Linked DNA regions of Homo sapiens: region 1 is linked to region 2. A link means that fine-mapping ties the variant in region 2 to the expression of a gene that starts in the linked region. Tissue or cell type: monocytes. Region 2 holds a variant in brackets; the other region holds the start of a gene. All regions are shown on one strand. Distances are from middle to middle.

Region 1 (2,680 bases), 21 kb before region 2:
CAAAGTACTGGGATTACAGGTGTGCAGCACCACATCTGGCTTAATTTTTTTTTTTTTTTTTGAGACAGGGTCTCATTCTGTCGCCCAGGCTGGAGTGCAGTGGAGGGATCTCGGCTCACTGCAACCTCCGCCTCCTGGGTTCAAGCAACTCCTGCCTCAGCCTCCCGAGTAGCTGGGATTACAGGTGCCCGCCGCCATGCCCGGCTAATTGTTGTATTTTTTGGTAGAGACAAGGTTTTATCATGTTGGCCAGGCTGGTATCCAACTTCAGACCTCAAGTGATCCGCCTGCCTCAGCTTTCCAAAGTGCTGGGATTATAGGCATGAGCCACTATGCCCAGCCAGAGACTCCATCTTTAAAACAAAAACAAAAACTCAGGGTGTGGTACCCACCAACCTGGCTTACCCAGCCTTTTAGGTGAGTCTAATGCATGCTCAAATTTGAAAACCACTGGGTTAAACGTCTGGTCTGGAGTTCATCAAAAAGTCATGGCCTGAATCCTTACCTGTAAGGCATCAGAATGCAAATGAAAATTAACTTAATGAATATTTTACTTGAGCCGGGCACACTTCCCACAACAGTATAGGATGGCTGTCCTTGTCCTGTTTTGTAGAGGACGGTGCTAAGCAGCCTATTCATTCTCACAAGGTCTCCAGGAAACCACACTTTTTTAAGGAGTAGAATTTTGGGGTAGGGCCGGGCGCAGTGGCTCACGCCTGTAATCCCAGCACTTTGGGAGGCCGAGGCGGGTGGTTCGCCTGAGGTCAGGAGTCGAGACCAGCCTGGCCAACATGATGAAACCCCGTTTCTACTAAAAATACAAAAAATAAATTAGCCAGGCGTGGTGGCGGGAGCCTATAATCCCAGCTACTCGGGAGGCTGAGGCAGGAGAATCGCTTGAATCCGGGGCAGGGGCGCGGAGGTTTCAGTGAGCCGAAATCGCGCCACTTCACACTCCAGCCTGGGAGAAAGAGCGAAACTCCGTCTCAAAAAAATATATATATATATATATTTGGGTAGGAAGCACAAGTAGGGACCGTGCTTGCTGCCAGAACAACCAATAGAAACTCCTTGAAGGCCTTCCTGGCACAAACGTAGTCTCCAGCACCCTCTGCCGACCAGGCCCCGCGCCCTCAGTGCTGAGACAGCCTCCAGCCCTCGGTGCCTTAGGGGTTGCGCGTCACCTTGGAGACCGCGTGAGAGGAGGGCGTGCCTCTGCAAAGGCGGAAGTCGGCTGTGGAAGTGTGGGCGGCCATTTTGAGACCGGGCAAGAGGGGCGGGACTGGTGCGGCCGAGTGACAGTTGACCGGTTTTAACCAAGTGACTGGTACCACGGGGCCGGGGAAAAAGCTGTGCCATCCAGGGGCGGGGGGATGCCGGGGACGGGGAGGAACTAGGAAGGGGAGGGGAAGGGGAAGGCGAGAAGGGGAGAGGCAGGGGAAAGAGGGGAAGAGTCGTGGGAGCTGGGAGAGGAGGGAAAGAGGGGAAGAGTCGTGGGAGCTGGCAGAGGAGGGAAAGGGGGAGCCGAACGTGAAGGGCGAAGGGCGGGGCGGGGCAGGAGAGTCGGGGTATAGAGCAGGCAGGTGTTAATGGCATGGGAAGGAAGAGTAAGAAGTGGGGCAAGAAGGTGTCGCGGTACGAGGGGAAGGTGAGACTCAAGAAGGTGCCGGCTAAGAAGCTGGTGCCGGCGTGGAAGGAGAAGGTGTGGGGCGAGGAAACAACGAAGGGCGAGGAAAGATCCCGAGGCGAAGAGACAGTTTTCATCGAGAAGGGGCAGGGCGAGGAGGAGGGGCGTTACCAGAGGGCGGGACGGGGCGACGGGCCCGCGCGGGAAGAACCAATCGCCGAGAACCCGGGGAAGGAACGGGTCCATAAAGACCAAGTGGAGGAGTAGGGGCGCGGTCAGGAGCGGAAGCAGAGTGAGGAGCAAGCCCCGGGCGAGAAACGGGGGCCCGGCCGGGAGCAAGAGCAGGGGCGGGGCCGGGAGCAAGAGCAGGGGCGGGGCCCGGAGACGGGCGAGACCAGGTACAGTACCCAGCCCCTGGGCAGACCCCGAGCGAGGAGAAAGCGGCGATACCAAGAGAAGTGCGAGGGTGGGGCAAGAGGTTGGGGCACAGCCGGGTGGAAGTACACGGGTGCGATCGCAGGCAGAAGCAGTACGGGGGAACTTAAGAGGGGGACTGTCAAAGCGAGAAATAGAAACCAAGACCAGGTGAAGAGCAAGAGTGGAATACAGGGAGGGGGCGGAATAAGGAGCAAGGTGAGGATAAAGTTAAAGGAAGAGACGTGGAGGCGGCGGGGCGGAACGAGGCGGAGGAGCAGGGGTGTGGCCAGAAACATTAGTAGGGCTGGGGCCCGGAGCAATAGCAGAGGTGCGATACCCACGAGGGTCGGGGGCAGGGCCAGGAGCAAGAGCAGGGGCGGGACCAGGAGCAAGTGCAGAGGCGGAGCCAGGAACAAGAGCAGAGGCGGGGCTAAAAGTCCGTGCGGGGGCAGGGCCAGGAGCAAGAGCAGGGGCGGGACCAAGAGCAAGTGCAGGGGCGGGGCCAGGAGCAAGAGCCGGGGCGTGGCCAGGAGCAAGTGCTGTGAGAGGCGCAGAAGCGAGGTGGAATCTTAAAAGTGGGCTCCAGAGAGCTGTCCGGCGCGTGGGTGTTGACTCCTGCGTTCTCCAGGTTCTAGC
Region 2 (2,680 bases):
CTACTAAAAGTACAAAAATCAGCTGAGCATGGTGGCATGCACCTGTAGTCCCAGCTACTTGGGAGGCTGAGGCATGAGAATTGCTCGAACCTGGGAAGCGGAGGTTGCAGTAAGCCAAGATCATGCCACTGCACTCCAGCCTGGGCAACAGAGTGAGACTGTCTTAATAATAATGATAGTAATAATAATAATAACTTAAGCACAAAGAATTTGTGGACTTACATAAATGAAAAGACTACGGTTCAACTTCAGGTATGGCTGGATCCAGGGGCCCACAGGGTAGGTCATCAGGACTCCATCTCTTGGTAAGGTAGTGCAGCATAGTAATTAATTATAGCACAGATTCTGGAGAGAGACTGCTCCATCACACCTTCGCTGTGTGCCTCTCGATATGTAACTTGACCTCTCTGATCTCGTTTTCTTCACCTACAAAATGTGGCTAATGGTAGTACTAGCATCTAGGTCACCGGGTTGATATAAAGATTAAATAAGTTGGTTTTTGTAAAGGTCTTAGTGCTAGTGATGTGGTGAGTGTTACAAACAGTTTATTATTATTGGTCCTATAATTTGGGTCCATTTTTAGGTAGCTATTCCTCCATGGAGGTTAAAGGTGGCCCCTTAAAGCTTCAGACTCAAGTCACCTACTAGTCTGAGTCACGCCAAGAGAATGAAGACAGCATCTTTCCCATTAATTCTAACACAAATCCCAGAGTAAACTCTGATCGGCCCACCGTGGGTCACATGGCCAGACCTGAGGCATGAGACCCACAGTCTCATGACTGTGACCAAAGACAGACATGCTCTGATAGGCCAGGTGTGAGTGACGAAAGGCCAGAGAATGAGATCCCAAGGACGGAGGGGCTGGTGGGCATAAGGAGGGCAATCGGAGTTGGCTTGATGGGCTGCCAGACAGGAGGGAGAGGGCCTGAACATGAACCCGACCTTGCTCTGCAGATGGCCAGGTGTCCTTTGAGATGCTGCCCAGGCAGTGGTCTGTGTGCGAGCAGATAGGAGGTACTCATTACCCCGATGGGTCTGCGGTGGGAGGCTGGGGGAACTGAGGATGCAGAAGAGCAGGGGAGGGTGGCAGGGGTCATGGGAAAGAATGGGCAGTGTCTTAGGGAGGGGTGAGTTATGGGGAGGGGTACAGCTGGCACAGGACCAAGGCTATTGAGCCCTGGGGCGGCTCTGGACTGCCCCTTTCCCTCTCAGTTACCACCTGCTCCATAATTTGGTCTGAATACATCGCGGGTGAGTATAC[T/C]CTACTGCTGCTGGTGGAGAGTGGATATGGTAATGCAAGTAAACGTTTCCAGGTGGTCAGCTACAACACAGGTAATGAGGGTGATGCAAGGGGCTGGGCACAAAGGGGCAGGATCCCAGACTGTGGACTGCATGCCCATCCTGAGGGATCTGTGCCCAGCAGACAGAGGGAGGGCAACATTACCTGTGTCACTCCTGGTTGAGGAGTAGCAGTGGAGAACAGGATATAGGCTTGGTGATCTGAAAGGGCCCTGTGGCTCACAATAAAGAGATTTTATTTTACCTGCAGTGAGAATAGGGCCCCTATGTAGATTTGTGCAGGCTGTGCAGTGCACAAAACCCCCAACCGAGGGGTCAGAGGAGACAGGTCCTGTGCCTTAACAGGACTGTTTCCTCTCAGGCAGTGCCTTTTTATAATTCACATGAAGAAATTCTAAAGGGCTAGGCAAGGGGCTCACACCTGTAATCCCAGCACTTTGGGAGGCCAAGGCCAGAGGATCCCTTGAGGCCAGGAGTTCAAGACCAGCCTGGGGCAACATGGCAAGAGGCTGTCTCTACAAATTAAAAAAAAAAAAAAAAAAAAAGTAGCTGAGTATGGAGTCGCACCTGTAGTCCCAGCTACTTGGAATATACCTGAGGTGGGAGGATAGCATAAGCCCAGGAGGTTGAGGCTACAGTGAGCTATGATCATGCTACTACCTGGGTGACAGAGCAAGACCCGGTCTCAAAAAAAAAAAAAGAGCAGAGCCAGGCGTGGTGGCTCGTGCTTATAATCCTGGCACTTTGGGACACCAAGGTGGGTGGAATGCTTGAGCTCAGGCGTTCAAGACCAGCCTAGGCAATATAGCGAAACCTCATCTCTACTAAAAATACAAAAATTGGCCGGGCACGGCGGCTCACGCCTGTAATCCCAGCACTCTGGGAGGCCGAGGCGGGGGGATCACCTAAGGTCAGGAGTTCAAGACCAGCCTGACTAACATGGTGAAACCCTGTCTCTACTAAAAATACAAAAATTAGTCGGGCATGATGGTGGGTACCTATAAACCCAGCAACTCAGGAGGCTGAGGTGGAAGAATCACTTGAACCTGGGAGGCAGAGGTTGCAGTGAGCTGAGATCATGCCATTGCACTGCAGCCTGGGCAACAGAGCGAGACTCCATCTCGAAAAAAAAAAAAATTAGCTGGGCATGGTGGTGGTGTGCGCCTATAATCCCAGCTACTCCATAGGCTGAGGTGGGAGGATCACTTGAACCGAGGAGGCAGAAGTTGCAGTGAGCTGAGATCACACCACTGCACTCCAGCCTGGGCGACAGGGAGATCCTGTCTCAGGGGGGAAATAAAAGAAAAGAAACTCTAAGGACTAGCAAACCCGAGTGGGAAGCTCTTTGGAGGGTTTTACAGGAGGCTGAGAAGCAAACAAC

What was found. PIP is the estimated chance that this variant, and not a neighbour inherited with it, causes the effect.
Region 1: it holds the start of CATSPERG, and the variant in region 2 is fine-mapped to the expression of CATSPERG in monocytes (TOPMed, PIP 0.99).

Annotation. Positions count from the first base shown.
Region 1 is chr19:38,334,549-38,337,228 of GRCh38, forward strand. CATSPERG (catsper channel auxiliary subunit gamma) reads left to right here and starts at 1,282. Exons shown (of 29, transcript NM_021185.5): 1 at 1,282-1,327; 2 at 2,673-2,680. RefSeq lists enhancers at 1,021-1,315, 1,120-1,329 and silencers at 1,450-1,529, 1,900-2,069.
Region 2 is chr19:38,355,530-38,358,209 of GRCh38, forward strand. It overlaps CATSPERG (catsper channel auxiliary subunit gamma), which reads left to right. Exons shown (of 29, transcript NM_021185.5): 10 at 955-1,014; 11 at 1,213-1,332. Among named protein-coding and RNA genes, the nearest start is that of PSMD8, 18 kb to the right of the region's middle. The variant T/C (reference allele first, on the strand shown) is at 1,262.